Regions from separate parts of the Homo sapiens genome. Here region 1 is linked to region 2. Evidence: fine-mapped expression QTL. Tissue or cell type: blood mononuclear cells. Region 2 holds a variant in brackets; the other region holds the start of a gene. All regions are shown on one strand. Distances are between the middles of the regions.

The links. PIP is the estimated chance that this variant, and not a neighbour inherited with it, causes the effect.
Region 1: DDA1 starts here. The variant in region 2 is fine-mapped to the expression of DDA1 in blood mononuclear cells (TOPMed, PIP above 0.99).

The regions. Positions count from the first base shown.
Region 1 is chr19:17,304,661-17,312,660 of GRCh38, forward strand. DDA1 (DET1 and DDB1 associated 1) reads left to right here and starts at 4,903. Exons shown (of 5, transcript NM_024050.6): 1 at 4,903-4,997. The coding sequence starts at 4,995. It overlaps MRPL34 (mitochondrial ribosomal protein L34), which reads left to right and starts at 1,212. Exons shown (of 2, transcript NM_023937.4): 1 at 1,212-1,297; 2 at 1,506-2,183. The coding sequence starts at 1,233. The coding sequence ends at 1,719. RefSeq lists enhancers at 1,156-1,235, 4,206-4,767, 4,489-4,678, 4,768-5,331, 7,557-8,000 and silencers at 1,466-1,525, 5,119-5,218.
Region 2 is chr19:17,368,204-17,376,451 of GRCh38, forward strand. The region is part of intron 1 of PLVAP (plasmalemma vesicle associated protein); the gene reads right to left. Among named protein-coding and RNA genes, the nearest start is that of PLVAP, 5.0 kb to the right of the region's middle. The variant T/C (reference allele first, on the strand shown) is at 3,341.

The sequences.
Region 1 (8,000 bases), 64 kb before region 2:
CCCCAAGCTGGCACTTGTAGGGATACAGCCCCAGGCCCCTGGCCCTTGAGGAGCCCTTGAACTTGGGGGAGAGTCAAGGGAAAGCAGTCGGGCCAGAAGAATGGACAGCGGTTGAGAGAAGACGACTCCTTTTTTTTTTGAGAAAGGATCTCACTCCGTTGCCCAGGCTGCAGTGCATTGGCGCTATCATTGCTCACTACAGCCTGGATCTCCTGGGTTCAGGGAATCCTCCCACCTCACCTTCAAGTACTTGAGACTATAGGTGGTTGCTACCATGTCCCCAGGCTGGTCTCAAACTCCTGGCCCCAAGGGATCCTCCCTCCTCAGCCTCCCAAAATGCTGGAATTACAGGCATGAGCCACACCTCACTCAGCCCTTGGAGAGGAAAGGATTTTTAAAGGGCGGATAGGGGAACACCAGGCAGAGAGGAGAGTGTGGCTGAAATGTAAGATGGTGTGTGTAGAGGGTTTTGCATGCCTGATGGAAGGGCTGAGCAGGTTTTACCTGGGGAAATGGGGAGCCAAGGATAGTGTGTGAGTAGGGGAGGGGTTCAGATCTGAGTATCAGAAAATTTTTCTTCCTTTTTTTTTTTTTTTTTTTTGGTTCTAACAACAGAGGAGAATTCTTCTAGGGCCCAAAATGGGGGCAAGATTGCCAAAGACAAGCTTGCAATCCCTGAGTTTACAGATTGAGAAAGCCCAGAGTGGCGCAGGGACCACCCCAAGGACACGCAGCGAGCTTGAACTCAGGCCTCCTCGGCTTCCTGCCAAGAGGCGGAGACTTGGCTGCAGCCAGGACAAGCTGCCAGCCAGCTGTGTGCCATCTGCCCAGCTCCCGCTGGGGGCGGGAAGACCAACCAGCCGCTTCCTGCAGCTGCCACCAGCTGCGCCCGGCCACCGCGGGGCACCCTCTGCCGGTCAATAGGAGAGAGAACTACAGCTCAGCTGCCAGCTGACCGCGGGAGATAATGCCTTGTGCGCACGCGCTTGCTCAGAAGGCGCCGTTCGCCGGCTACCTGTTGGTGTGTATGCAGAGCATCCCTGTGCCCCGCGGATATAGACTGGCGCGCCTCTGTTGCGCAGGCGCAGAACTACAACTTCAGGGTTTTCCCCAACGGCCTCTTTTTTGCACGTTAGGAGAAACTACATTTCCCATAATCCTTTGTTCCAGGGCTGGAGCGGCTCTGGGCTCCGGAATCGCCCGCAGCCGGTACTGCGGGACCCACTGCGGATATGGCTGTCTTGGCTGGATCCCTGTTGGGCCCCACGAGTAGGTCGGCAGCGTTGCTGGGTGGCAGGTAAGTCCTCAGGGGGACCCTTCCCCAAATCAGGGAATAAGGGCGGCTTCGGAGGCTGGCGCCACTCTTCACTGCCCGCGTGACCTGCCAGTGCCTTGCGCATTTTGCAGCCAGGCTCTGTCTCCGGGAGCCGAGGCTCAGAGAGGTTGAGCGCCAAGGTCACCCAGCGCCCCGTCTGACCTTTCTCGCCGTCCCTCTACCCACGCAGGTGGCTCCAGCCCCGGGCCTGGCTGGGGTTCCCAGACGCCTGGGGCCTCCCCACCCCGCAGCAGGCCCGGGGCAAGGCTCGCGGGAATGAGTATCAGCCGAGCAACATCAAACGCAAGAACAAGCACGGCTGGGTCCGGCGCCTGAGCACGCCGGCCGGCGTGCAGGTCATCCTTCGCCGAATGCTCAAGGGCCGCAAGTCGCTGAGCCATTGAGGATCGCGACGCAGTCGGCGGGACCCTCATGGAAGCATCGCCCTCGCCTCGGACCTTGCCTGGCGCTATTTTTGCAGGGAGCTGGGGAGCAGGAACGCCTCGGACCTGAGTGCTCTCCATATTGTGGGGTTGAAGTCTGGATGGGAGCTTGCCAAGTCCCTTTTTAGGCTTTTTAATTAGGAAGCATTTCGAACCTGCGCAACAGACCAAAGAACAGTACAAAGAACATCCGTGTACCCAGTACCCTGACTACCGACTACCTACAACCCGTCCCTGCCCCATCCTGAGTTCTTTTGAAGCTGATCTCAGGCATCGGATTATTTCTTCTGTAAATATTTCAGAATGTATCTCTCCAAGATGAGAGCTCATTAAAAGACAATTACAAAGCTTATCACATCCAAAAGAATTATCAATAATTTTGAAATATTATTAAACGTGTAATAAATGTTCAAAGTTCCACTTGCCTTATATGTGTCATAACTCTTTTTTTTTTTTGAGACAGTTTCCCTTTTGTTGCCCAGGTTGGAGTGCAATGGGGGGATCTCGGCTCATTAAAACCTCCGCCTTGCGGGTTCAAGCGATTCTCCTGCCTCACCCTCCCGAGTAGCTGGGATTACAGGCATGCGCCACCACGCCCGGCTAATTTTGTATTTTTAGTAGAGATGGGGTTTCTCCATGTTGGTCAGGCTGGTCTCGAGCTCCCGACCTCAGGTGATCCGCCCTCCTCTGCCTCCCAAAGTGCTGGGATTACAGGCATGAACCACTGCGCTCTGTCCCCCAGGCTGGAGTGCAGTGGCACGATCTCGGCTCACTGCAAACTCCCTCTCCTGGGTTCAAGCAATCTCCTGCCTCAGCCTCCCGAATAGCTGGGATTATAGGCGCCCACCACCACACCCGGCTAATTTTTGTATTTTTAGTAGAGACGGGGTTTCAACCATGTTGGCCAGGCTGGTCTCGAACTCCTGACCTCAGGTGATCTGCCTGCCTCGGCCTCCCAAAGTGCTGGGATTACAGGTGTGAGCCGTCATGCCCAGCCTGTGTCATAAATTTTATAGGTCTGGGAAGACTGGTGGAAAACTGTGTGTGTGTGCGGGGGGGTGTTTGTTTTTGAAACAGGGTCTCGCTCTGTCACCCAGGCTGGAGTGCAGTTGTCGGATCCCTGCTTACTGCAACCTCTGCCTCCTGGGTTCAAGCAATTCTGGTGCCTCAGCCTCCCAAGTAGCTGGGATTACAGGTGCATGCCACCACGCCCAGCTAATTTATGTATTTTTAGTAGAGGGGAGTTTCACCATGTTGACCAGGCTGGTCTTGAACTCCAGCCCATAAGGAGTTTGAATCTTCCACTTGTCCCTTGGGGATGTTTGATTTTGAGCAAGAATTTAACACTGTGAGGTGCATTTGTCGCCTATAAAATGCAGTGCTGGTTTCTCCTCTGCTCTGTTGCTGTTGGAGTAATAATACTTAGTAGCTTCCACTTAGCAACTTCACTGTGCAATTGCTGTGTGCTGGGTGCCCATTCTTTGCCCTGGAAGTCAGGAAGGCAGTTTGGACACAGAGGTGTCAGGGCTGGGAGGGGGATTGTGAGGGCTGTAGGACTTCAGGGAAGGTACCTGACTTGCCTTTTTGAAGAATGCAGTCAGGGAAGTCTTGGAGGAAATGGCAAGGTCTGGGAGAGCCCAGACATAGAAGGAATTGGTTAGAGGTGAGGACACAGGTGGGCAATGAAGACCGCAGGTGCCCATAAATGGGGCCAAGGAGGTGGGATTGAATACTAGGGAGTTACGGGAGGTGGTTGAGCAAGACGGTGTCGAGGAGGAGCTAGGGAGTGTTATGGTTCTTATCTTCTAGGGCTGCTTTAAAAACGTAATAAACACAAGAAGATGCCGGCACGATGGCTCCCAGAACTTTGGGAAGCCAAGTCTGGAGGATTGCTTGAGGCCAGAAGTTCGAGACCAGCTTGGGAAACATAGCAAGACCCCTGTGTCTTTTTTTTTTTTTTCTTTTGAGAGGGAGTTTAGCTCTTGTTGCCCAGACTGGACTGTAGTGGCTTAATCTCGGCTGACTGACACCTCCGCCTTCTGGTTTTAAGCGATTCTCCTGCCTCAGCCTCTTGAGTAGCTGGGATGACAGGCGCCCGCCACCACGCCCGGCTAATTTTTGTATTTTAGTAGAGATGGGGTTTCACCATGTTGGCCAGGCTGGTCTCAAACTCCTGACCTCGTGATCCGCCCGCCTCGGCTTCCCAAAGTGCTGGGATTGCTGGGATTACAGGCGTGAGCCACCGTGCCCCGCCTTTTTTTTTTTGAGACAGAGTCTCCCTCTGTCCGCCAGGCTGGAGTGCAGTGGCGCGATCTCAGCTCACTGCAAGATCCGCCTCACTCACGGTTCACGCCGTTGTCCTGCTTCGGCCTCCGGAGTAGCTGGGACTACAGGCGTCCGCCACCACGCCCGGCTAATTTTTTGTATTTTTAGTAGAGACGTGGTTTCACCGTGTTAGCCAGGACGGTCTCGATCTCCTGACCTCGTGATCCACCCGCGTCGGCCTCCCAAAGTGCTGGGATTACAGGCGTGAGCCACTGCGCCCGGCTGGCTTTTTTTTTTTTTTTTTGAGACTGATTTTCGCTCTTGTTGCCCAGGCTGGAGTGCAATGGCACGATCTTGGCTCACTGCAACCTCCGCCTCCCGGGTTCAAGTGATTCTCCTGCCTCAGCCTCCCTACTAGCTGGAATTACAGGCGCAGAGATGGGGTTTCACCATGCTGGCCAGGCTGGTCTCGAACTGCTGACCTCAGGCGATCTACCCGCCTCGGCCTCCCAAAGTGCTAAGATTACAGGAGTGAGCCACCGCACCCGGCCGAACCTCGCATCTTAAAAACACACAGACACACAAAAGCTCTAGAGAGCCTCGCGGAGCTGTAAACTACAGCTCCCAAGAGACTTCGCGGCCGAGGCCTCCGCCCACTTCCGGATCTCACTTTCATTGCTTCCAAGTACCGGGAGGTGCTTTGCTTCTTCAACCGAACTTGACCACAATGGGAGGAGGCGTGGCAACCAATGGGCGCATGAGTTAGCTGGATGCGGCCAATGGAAGCGTGCAAAGCGCTCCTATGTGGGGGCGGGGCTAGACTGCACACCAATGACAGGGAGGTGGTGGCGCCATCAGTGTGGGCTGTGCCGTGGCTGGAAGTTACTGTGAGGCGGCGGCTAAGAAGGCGGCTCTGGTGGCGGCGGTGGAGGCTGAGGCGGCGGCCGAGGCGGCGACGGAGGAAACAGAAGATGGTGAGGATGGCCTCCAGGCCCCCACTCCCCCTCTGCTAGACAAAATGGCGCTGTGGTCCCACCCACCTCTAGTATCCCCCTAGGCCCCTCTCCGTTCTGCCCGGTCCCCTCAGGTCCGGCCCGCCCCTCCCACTCACCTGTGACCTTCGACCCCCGGACCCTACCGAGAGCTTCCTGCTGATCCCACTGCCACTCCTTCTCCGACCCCTGACCCCATCCAGGATACCAAGCCCTGACAACTCATTCATTTCCGGGTTGCGGCTCCCCCCGGAAATCGTCTGGGGTGGGGATGGGGTCCCGTAAGACCCCCTGGTCTGGCCTCGTTCTCAGCACGCCGGACCTGGATCTCTTCAGTTCAGGAGAATTTGGGAGGCCGGCCTGGGCCCCGGGGCGGGGGAGGGGGCTTGGCACCGCGATATGCAGGGCTTTGTCGCCAAAGGAAGTGCGACATCGCCGATTGTCCCGGTTCCCCGGGCCCTGACCCCACCTCCACCATTCTGGGCCCTTACCCGCCTCTAAGAATGAAAAACTTTTATCTCCGATCCGCATGGATTGTCCCTGTGAAATGAGGGTAGCAGTAGTCTGAACCTCTTAGGGTGGTGACAATTTAGGTAACTGACGTCGTAAAGGACTCAGGATAGTGAATGCTCAACAGATGAGCTGGGTGACTCGAGGCCAGTGACGTTCTCTTCTAGCTGTCCCCTCATTATGAAGTGTGGATCGTCCCCACCTGGCTGTTGGAAGGTTGAAATTCCTTCAGGGTTCCTCAGTCATCCTGGAATTTGGGTCTGGTGGTTCTTCGGGGTTCAGTCTCCCCACCTGAAAAGTGGGATGGTGACCCACCCTCAGAGTGGAACTAAAGCCTCTCCACAACCCCCATTAGTTGGCATCCTGAGGGCTGGGAAGGGTGATGGGAAGCTTGGTCAAGATACCTCAAGTCTCCTTTGTCCCCTGACCCAGAGTCCCAGCCCACAATCCACAGTCCTTGGGATGTGGTGGGGATGAAAGGAAGACTCCCTTTCAGGAAGGAAATGGGAAGGTGGGTTCCTAGTGTGCGGGTCCCCAAGCCTGGGAGTTGTCCTTGATACCTTGGTACAGTCTCATCCCTACAGCCAATCATAAGTGGATTAGATTGTCTCTGCCTTCTGAACACACCTGAATTCATCCATGGCTTCATGCCCTGTTGCAGGTACTGCCACTTCCCACCTGCATACCTGTCCCAGCTTCTTCCCTGGTCTCCTAGCCTTGCTCTCACCCCTTTGGCAGTTCATAATTCACCTGAACCAGAAGGAACTTTTTTTTTGGAGTCAGGGTCTCACTCTGGCGCCCAGACTGGAGGCTCAAGAGATCCCCACACCAGGCTCATTTTTGTACTTTTTGGAGAGATGGGGATTCCCTATGTTGCCCAGGCTGGTCTCAAACTCCTGGGCTCAAGTGATCCTGCCTCAGCCTCCCAAAGTGCTGGTATTACAGGTGTGAGGCACTGCATGGGGCCTGAGAAGGAGGTTGTTTTTTTTTTTTCTTTTGAGATGGAGTCTTGCTCTGTCGCCCAGGCTGGAGTGCAGTGGCATGATCTCGGCTCACTGGAACCTCCGCCTCCTGGGTTCAAGCCATTCTCCTGCCTCAGCCTCCCAAGTAGGTGGGACCCACCACCATGCCCGGCTAATTTTTGTATTTCTAGTAGAGACAGGTTTTCACCATATTGGCCAGGCTGGTCTTGAACTCCTGACCTTGTGATCCACCCGCTTCGGACTCCCAAAGTGCTGGGAGTACAGGTGTGAGCCACTGCGCCCGGCCAGAAGGAGCTTTTAAAGATGTGCATCAAATGATACCACTTTCTAGCCTATAAAATGCTCCAGGAACCCTGGCGGCTCCCCTCCTCACCCTGAGGCCCCTGGCCACCTCTATGACCTTATCTCCACTCTCTTCTCCACTCTGTCTGTGAGCTTCAGCCACCCTGGCCTTGTTTTCACTTCCTCACACTCCAGGTTCCTGCTACCCCAGGGCCTTTACACCTGCTGCTCTTTCTGCTCGGAACACTCTTCCTCCTGTGATCGAGGTCATTCCTGACTTTGGGGGGCCCCCAGTTCTCTGCTATTAGTGTACTGCTTCTCTTTCTCATCTCTTTGTTGGGTCTCTGGCAGGCTACCTGCAGTGGGACTGGCACACAGGTGTCCAGTGCGTGTCTGCTGAGGCACCTGTGAGGGCCCAGCCGTGGCTGGCATTTGTCTGGAATGAGGCCTCCCCCACCCCCTGCCCCCATGTCTCGAGGCCTTGTTTTCCAGCTTAGCATGACAGGAAGGCTGCACGTACCCTGCCTTCATTCATTTGTCCAACGCAGACATGTTGATCCTAAAGGCTGCCCCTGAGGGAGCTCTGTGCAAAGCATTCCCCTTGTTGTCTTATGACTCAGAGTAACCCTGGGAGGTGGCCCTGTTGGAATGCGTCTCTTCACAGGGAGGCCCAGAGGCTGGGAAGTCCCTCGTCCCAGGTCACACAACCAGGGACGGGCTAAGCCAGGATTGAGAGCAGAATGCCCGGAGTACCTGCACCTCTCGCCACTCAGCCACCGGGCCCTGTGTGAGCCCGGCCAGGGTTCAGTCAGCCCTGTCCTGTCCTCTTCCCTTGGGGAGGTACCAGTCCAGCCAGGGAGGTGGACATGTAAGCAGATGACCTCGCCGGGGTGTGAGGGAGGCTCTGGGAGAGGCTCCCGAAGTGTCGGGGGAACAAAGGGGCCAGGGAGGGTGTTGGAGCTGGTGGGGAGGTTAGCAGGTATTTGCCACATGGAGGCATGAGGGGCATTCCTAGAGGGTGTGTGTGGCAGAGGGTGTGTATGATGGGAGTCCAGCAGGGGCAAGCTGGGCCAGGGCTGCGAAGGGGGACAGGGACCCCTCCTCACCCTTCAGGTCTCAGTGCCTGCATCCCTGCGTCTGGGCAGCCCTCCTTTATCCCCTAAATGGGCCAGAGCTCTGCCTTGCACCTCACACTGCGCCCTCGAGGCAC
Region 2 (8,248 bases):
TGGGATTACAGGCACGCACCACCATGCTTGGCTAATATTGTATTTTTTAGTAGAGACAGGGTTTCTCCATGTTGGCCAGGCTGGTCTCAAACTCCCATCCTCAGGTGATCCGCCCACCTCGGCCTCCTAAAGTGCTAGGATTACAGGTGTGAGCCACCGCACTCGGCCGAACTAATTTTTGTATTTTTAGTAGAGACAGGGTTTCACCATGTTGGCCAGGCTGGTTTCAAACTCCTGACCTCAGGTGATTCGCCCCCCTCGGCCTCCCAAAGTGCTGGGATTATAGTCGTGAGCCACCTCTCCTGGCAGAAGTAGGGTCTTTAGAGAGGTAATTAAGTTAAGGTGAGGTCCTTAGGGTGGGTCCTAATCCAACATGACTGATGTCCTTATAAAGAGAAGAGATTTGGACACAGAGACACGGACAGAAGGAAGACCAAGAGCAGACACAGGAAGAAGATGCCACCTGCAAGCCAAGTAGAAAGACCTGGAACAGGCCGGCTATGGTGGCTCACGCCTGTAATCCCAGCACTCTGGGAGGCCAAGGCGGGTGGATCACGAGGTCAAGAGTTCAAGAGCAACCTGGCCAAGATGGTGAAATCCCATCTCTACTAAAAATACAAAAAAATTAGCAGGGCATGTTGGTGGGCACCCGTAATCTCAGCTACTGGGGAGGCTGAGGCAGAGAATTGCTTGAACTCGGGGAGGCGGAGGTTGCAGTGAGCCGAGATCGCGTCTCTGCACTCCAGTCCAGCCTGGGTGACAGAGCGAGACTCCGTCTCAAAAAAACAAACAAACAAACAAAAACCTGGAACAGATCCTTCCCTCACAGCCTCAGAAGGAACCAACCCCGCTAACACTTTGATCTTGGTACCACCCAGTCTGTAATACCTTGTCATGGAAGCCCTAGCAAATTAATACAAATGCTAACACCATCTCATGAGGCAAACAACAGTCTTTAAAAAAAACCTTTTTTTGTTTTTTTTTTTGTTGTTGTTTTTGAGACAGGGTTTTTTGCTCTGTCACCCAGCCTGGAGTGCAGTGGCACGATCTCGGCTCACTGTAACCTCCGTCTCCCGGGTTCAAGTGATTCCCCAGCCTCAGCCTCTCGAGTAGCTGGGATTACAGGTGTGCACCACCATACCTGGCTAATTTTTGTATTTTTAGTAGAGACAGGGTTTCGCCATGTTGGCCAGGCTGGTCTCGAACTCCTAACCTCAAGTGATCTGCCCACCACCAGCCTGGCCAACATGGCGAAACCCCATCTTTGCTAAAAATACAAAAATTAGCCAGGCATGGAAGCGCATGCTTGTAGTCCCAGCTATTTGGGAGTCTGAGCCAGGAGACTCGCTTGAATCCGGGAGGCGGAGGTTGCAGTGAGATGAGATTGTGCCACCACACTCCAACCTGGGGAACAGAGTGAGACTCTATGTCCAAAAAAAAAAAAAAGAAAAATTAAAATTAAATTAAATAAGATATGCAAATGGCCAAAGAGCATATCAAAAGACATTCAAAATCGGCTGGGCGCGGTGGCTCACACCTATAATCCCAGCACTTTGGGAGGCCAAGACAGGTGGATCACCTGAGGTTGGGCATTCGAGACCAGCCTGGCCAACATGGTGAAACCCCATCTCTACTAAAAATACAAAAAAATTAGCCAGGCCTGGTGGCAGGTGCCTGTAATCCCAGCTACTTGGGAGGCTGAGGCAGAAGAATTGCTTGAACCCGGGAGATGGAGGTTGCAGTGAGCCACGATCACACCATTGCACTCCAGCCTGGGTGACAGAGCGAGAGTCTGTCTAAAAAAAAAAAAAAAAAAAAAAAAAGAAAGATATTCAAAATCATTAGCCATTACGGAAATGCAAATCAGGACCACAGTGAGATACCACTACACACCCACGAGGGTGGCTATTTTAAAAACCCATAAACCCCCAAAATGAACAGTAACAGGTGTTGATGAGGATGTGGGGAAATCAGAATTCTCAGACAGTACTAGTGAGAATGTACAATGTTGCAACGGCTTTGGGAAAGTCTGGCAGTTCCTCAAAATGTTAAACATAGTTACCACGTGACCCAGAAACTCTACTTCTCAGCATATACCCAGAGCAATGGAAACACATCCTCACATCAACTTGCCAGGAATGTCCACAGCCGCTCGATTCACAGTAGCCAAAGGTGGAAAGAACCCAAATGCCTGTCAGCAGATGAATTAACGCACAAAATGTGTTCCTTCCATACATAGAACATGATTCAGCCATAAAAAGGAAGGAAGCACTGATCCATGTTGCAGTGTGTGTGAACCCCAAAAACATGATGCCTAAGTGAGAGAAGCCGGACACAAAAGGCCACAGAATGTGAGATTCCACTGACATGAAATGCCCAGAACAGGCAAATCCATAGAGACAGGAAGCAGGTTGGTGGCTGTCAGGGATTGGGGGAGGGGAATGGGAAGTGACTGCTGATGGGGACGTGGGTTTTCTTTTGGGAAGGTGAAAATGTTCTAAAATAATGTTCTAAAATGGATCGTGGTGATCAATGTACAACTCTGTGAATTTACAAAAAAATCATCAAATTGGCTGGGCGCGGTGGCTCACGCCTGTAATCTCAGCACTTTGGGAGGCCGAGGCGGGCGGATCACGAGGTCAGGAGATCTAGACCATCCTGGCTAACACGGTGAAACCCCATCTCTACTAAAAATACAAAAAATTAGCCAGGCGTGGTGGCGGGCGCCTGTAGTCCCAGCTACTCGGGAGGCTGAGGCAGGAGAATGGCGTGAACCTGGGAGGCAGAGCTTGCAATGAGCTGAGATCGCGCCACTGCACTCCAGCCTGGGCGACAGAGCGAGACTCCATCTCAAAACAAACAAACAAACAAACAAAAACATCAAATTGTACACTTTAAATAGGTGGATTGTAAAATACATGAATTATATATCAATAAAGCTGTTTTTAAAAATTATTTATTATTATTATTATTATTGAGATGGAGTCTCGCTCTGTGGCCCAGGCTAGAGTGCAGCGGTGTGATCTCAGCTCACTGCAACCTCTACTTCCTGGGTTCAAGTGATTCTCATGCCTCAGCCTCCCAAGTAGCTGGGAATACAGGGGTGCACCACCATGACCAGCTAATTTTTGTATTTTAGTAGAGACGGGGTTGCACCATGTTAGCCAGGTGGTTTCGAACTCCTGACCTCAAGTGATCCACTGGCCTCAGTCTCCTGCCTTGACTTCCCAAAGTGCTGGAATTACAGACGTGAGCTGCCACGCCCGGCCAGCTATTTTTATTTTAATTTAATTTTATTTTTTTTGAGACATGGTCTCACTCTGCCACCCAGGCTGGAGTG[T/C]GGTGGTGTGATCACAGCTCACTGCAGCCTCAGCCTCCCCAGGCTCGGGCAATCCTCCCACCTCAGTCTCTCAAGTAGCTGGGATTACAGGCACGTGCCACCACTCCTGGCTAATTTTTTATAGAGATGGGGTCTCACCATGTTGCCCAGGCTGGTCTTAAACTGCTGAGCTCAAGCAATCCACCCACCTTGGCCTCCCAAAATGTTGGGATTACAGGTGTGAACCACCACGCCTGGCCAGCAAAGCTGTTTTTAAAGAAAGTGTTCACAATTTAACAAACTAAAGCCATGCCTTTCAAACTTTGGAAGAGAACCCTCTGCAGAAATATAATAAGACATGAAGAATCAGGAGAGTTTGTCTTTCTGCAACTCTCTGTCCTTCATCCTTTTGCAGTTGGCCCTGGGTGAATGTCCTGGGGGGACATGGGGAATGCCTTCTGTTCTCAAAAGCCTTAGTCATTAGGAGGCTGAGGTGGGAACACTGCTTGAGGCTGGGAGTTCGAGACCAGCCTCGGCAATGTAGTGACACCATGTCTCTAAAAAAAAAAAAAAAAAAAAAGGATGTGATTTTTAAGTTTCTTTTTTAATTTTTAGTTTATTTTTTATAGAGAAGAGGTGTCTTGGGAGGCTGAGGCAGGTGGATCACCTGAGATCAGGAGTTCCAGACCAGCCTGGCCAACATGGGGAAACCCCATCTCTACTAAAAATACAAAAAATTAGCTGGGTTTGGTGGCGGGTGCCTGTAATCCCAGCTACTCGGGAGGCTGAGGTAGGAGAATCACTTGAACCCGGGAGGCAGAGGTTGTAGGGAGCTGAGATTGCGCCACTGCAATCCAGCCTGGGCGACAGAGTGAAACTCTGTGTCAAAAATAGTAATAATAATAATAAAATAATTAAATAATGTTTTTATTTATTTATTTATTTATTTTTTGAGACGGAGTCTCGCTCTGTCGCCCAGGCTGGAGTGCAGTGGCGCAATCTCGGCTCACTGCAAGCTCCGCCTCCCGGGTTCATGCCATTCTCCTGCCTCAGCCTCCCGAGTAGCTGGGACTACAGGCGCCCACCACCACACCTGGCTAATTTTTCGTATTTTTAGTAGAGACGGGGTTTCACTGTGTTAGCCAGCATGGTCTCGATCTCCTGACCTAGTGATCCACCCACCTCGGCCTCCCGAAGTGTTGGGATTATAGGTGTGAGCCACTGCACCCGGCCAATAATTTTTTTTTAAATGAAAAGACAGGCCAGGTGCAGTGGCTCACACCTGTAATCCCAGCACTGGGAGGCCAAGGCGGGCGGATCACGAGGTCAGGAAATTGAGGCCATCCTGGTTAACATAGTGAAACCCCGTCTCTACTAAAAATACAAAAAAAAAATTAGCAGGGCATGTTGGCGGGCACCTGTAGACCCAGCTACTCGGGAGGCTAAGGCAGGGGAATTGCTTGAACCCAGGAGGCAGAGGTTGCAGTGAGTGGATACCGCGCCATTGCACCCCAGCCTTGGCGACAGAGCTAGACTCTGTCTCAAAAAAAAAAAAAAAAAAAAAAAAAAAAGAAAGAAAAGACACCAGTTAGCCAGGTTCAGGTCTGAGAGGGGAGGCAGGGCTCTAATCTGAGGATCTAAGGGGCAGGCAGGACCCTATTGGGAGGGTCTGAGGGAGGGGCACAGTTATGCCCTGGGGACTGAGGGGTGTTCCACCCCATCTTGGGGGGCTGAGGTGAGACCTACCATACTCTGGGCATCTGGGGAGACGGTGCTTTGCCCCGGGGTTTTGGCGGATAGAGACAGGGCCCTACCCCTGGGGCTCTGGGCGAGGGGTTGAGGTGGAGGTAGGGCCCCGCCATTAGGGGTCTGAGGTGAGGAGACTGAGTTCTGCCTTGAGCAGGACTGAGGGGGCTGAGCTTACCTTCCTGCCCAGTGCGGACGGCTGGGTGGTCTGAGGTCCTATGGGAGGTCTGTCTTTGCCACTGCCTGGGCCCTGGCCAGCCAGGTCACCTCCTTGGAAGACCCTGAAGCTGCCTCTTCAGCCTTCCCTCACCCCACCCTCCCATCTCTCACCCACCTCACCCTTAAGGAGAGAGCCCCACACCTGCTCCCCACAATGTCTCAGGGCAGGCGGGACACCCCCTGGATGAAGTTGTGTCTGAGAACACGGGGATAATTGTCTAGTGAGTTTGACACAAGCCGGGGTGCGAGAGTGGCGCGATGGTCTCCAGGAGACCCCAGATTTGCAGCTGTGACTTTGCCCAGAGAGCCCGCCTGTTTCTGCCACCTCAAGAAAGTCACCTCCCCTCTCATGCCTTCACTTTCCTGCCTGCAAAGGGTTTAAAACTTCTGCTGCCCAGGCGCAATGGCTCACTCCTGTAATCTCAACACTTTGGGAGGCCAAGGCAGGTGGATCACTTGAAGGCAGGAGTTTGAGACCAGCCTGGCCAACATGGTGAAACCCCATCTCTACTAAAAATACAAAACTTAGCCGGGCATGGTGGGGCGCACCTGCAATCCCAGCTACTCGGGAGGCTGAGGCAACAGAATCGCTTGAGCCTGGGAGGCAGTGGTTGCAGTGAGCCGAGACCTTCCACTGCACTCCAGCCTTGGCAACAGAGGGAGACCCTGTCTCAAACAAAACAAAATAAAACAAAACAGCCGGGAACGGTGGCTCACGCCTGTAATCCCAGCACTTTGGGAGGCCGAGGCGGGTGGATCACAGGGTCAGGAGATCCAGACCATCCTGGCTAACACAGTGAAACCCGGTCTCTACTAAAAATAGAAAAATTAGCCAGGCATGACGGCGGGCGCCTGTAGTCCCAGCTACTCAGGAGGTTGAGGCAGGAGAATGGTATGAACGCAGAAGGTGGGGCTTGCAGTGAGCCGAGACTGCGCCACTGCACTCCAGCCTGGGTGAAAGAGTGAGACTCCATCTCAAACAAAACAAAACAACAAAAGCTTCTCCCTACTTCCCGGGATTTGGCAATGAGTTAATATTTCTAAATTCAACACCCAGCATACAGCAAATATGGACTGTTTATACATGCTAGAATTGAACAGGAACAAAACACTGTGAACTTTTATTCAGTCCATCCTTTTTTTGTTTTTTTTTTTCCATTCAGGGTCTCACTCAGTCGCCCAGGCTGGAGTACAGTGGCACTATCTTGGCTCACTGCAGCCTTGACCTCCTGGGCTCAAGTGATCCTCCCACCTCAGCCTCCCAAGTAGCTGGGACTACTGGCATGTGCCACCATGCCTGACTAATTTTTGTATGTATGTATGTATGTATGTATGTATGTATTTATTTTTAGACAGAGTCTCCCTCTGTTGCCCAGGCTGGAGTGCAGTAGTGAGATCTCGGCTCACTGCAATCTCTGCCTCCCAGGTTCAAGTGATTCTCCTGCCTCAGCCTCCCGAGTAGCTGGGACTACAGGCACATACCACCATACCCGGCTAATAATTTTTGTATTTTTAGTACAGACGGGGTTTCACTAGGTTGGCCAGGCTGGTCTCAAATTTCTGACCTCAAGTGATCCACCCACCTTGGCCTCTCACAGTGCTGGGATTACAGGTGTTAGCCAGTATGCCTGGCCTAATTTTTGTACTTTTTGTACAGACAGGGTTTCACCATGTTGCCCAGGTTGGTCTCAAATTCCTGGACTCAGGTGGTCCTCCTGCCTCGGTCTCCCAAAGTGCTGGGATTACAGGTGTGAGCTACTGTAGCCGGTCTTCAGCCACTTATTTGCAGCTTGTGTGTGCTGGACCCCTTTGATTAGTGCTGGCACATTCTGGGAGCTTCATGCATAGTAAGTTATGGGCTCAGGACTGCCAATTAACACACAGGAGGAGAATTAAACTTGGATTCCAAAAAGACAATGAATATTATTTTCAAAATTATATCTCAAATATTGCATGGAATATACTTACAGTTTAAAAAAAATGTTGCTGGCTGGGAATGGTGGCTCATGCCTGTAATCTCAGCACTTTAGGAGGGTGAGCCTAGGAGTTCAAGACCAGCCTCAGCAGCATAGTGAGATTCTGTCTCTAAAAAAAAGTTAGCCAGGGCACCAGGTCAGGGCACGGTGGCTCATGCCTGTAATCCCAGCACTATGGGAGGCCGAGGTGGGTGGCTCACTTGAGGTCAGGAGTTTGAGACCAGCCTGGCAAACATGGTGAAACCCCGTCTCTACTAAAAATACAAAAATTAGCTGGCATGGTTGCACACGCCTGTAATCCCAGCTACTCAGGAGGCTGAGGCAGGAGAATCACTTGAACCTGGGAGGTGGAGGTTGCAGTGAGGCGAGATTGTGCCACTGCACTTCAGCCTGGGTGACAGAGCGAGACTCCGTCTCAAAAAAAAAAAAAAAAATTGCCAGGTGTGGTGGTGCCCACCTGTAATCTCAGCACTTTGGGAGGTCCAGGAGGGAGGATTGTTTGAGCCCAGGAGTTCAAGACCAGCCTGATCAACATAGCGAGACCCCACGTCTACTAAAAATAAAAAATGACCTGGGCATAGTGGCATGTCCATAGTGCCAGCTACTCAAAAGGCTGAGGCAGGAGGATTGCTGGAGCCCAGGATGTCAAGGCTTCAGTGAGCTATGCTCACATCACTGTGCTCCAGCCTGGGTGACAGAGTGAGACCCTGCCTCCAAAAAAAAGAAAAGAAATAAAAAAAATTTAGCTGGACGCAGTGCCCCACACCTGTAATCCCAGCAGTTTGGGAGGCTGGGGTGAGAGGATTGCTTGAGCCCAGGAGTTCGAGACTAGCCTGGGCAACATAGTGAGACCTCATCTCTGCTAAATATAAACATATTAGCTGGGTGTGGTGGTGCACGCCTGTAGTCCCAGCTACTCAGGAGGCTGAGGCAAGAGGATCACTTGAGTCCAGGAGATTGAGGTTGCAGTGAGCTGTGATAGCAATTG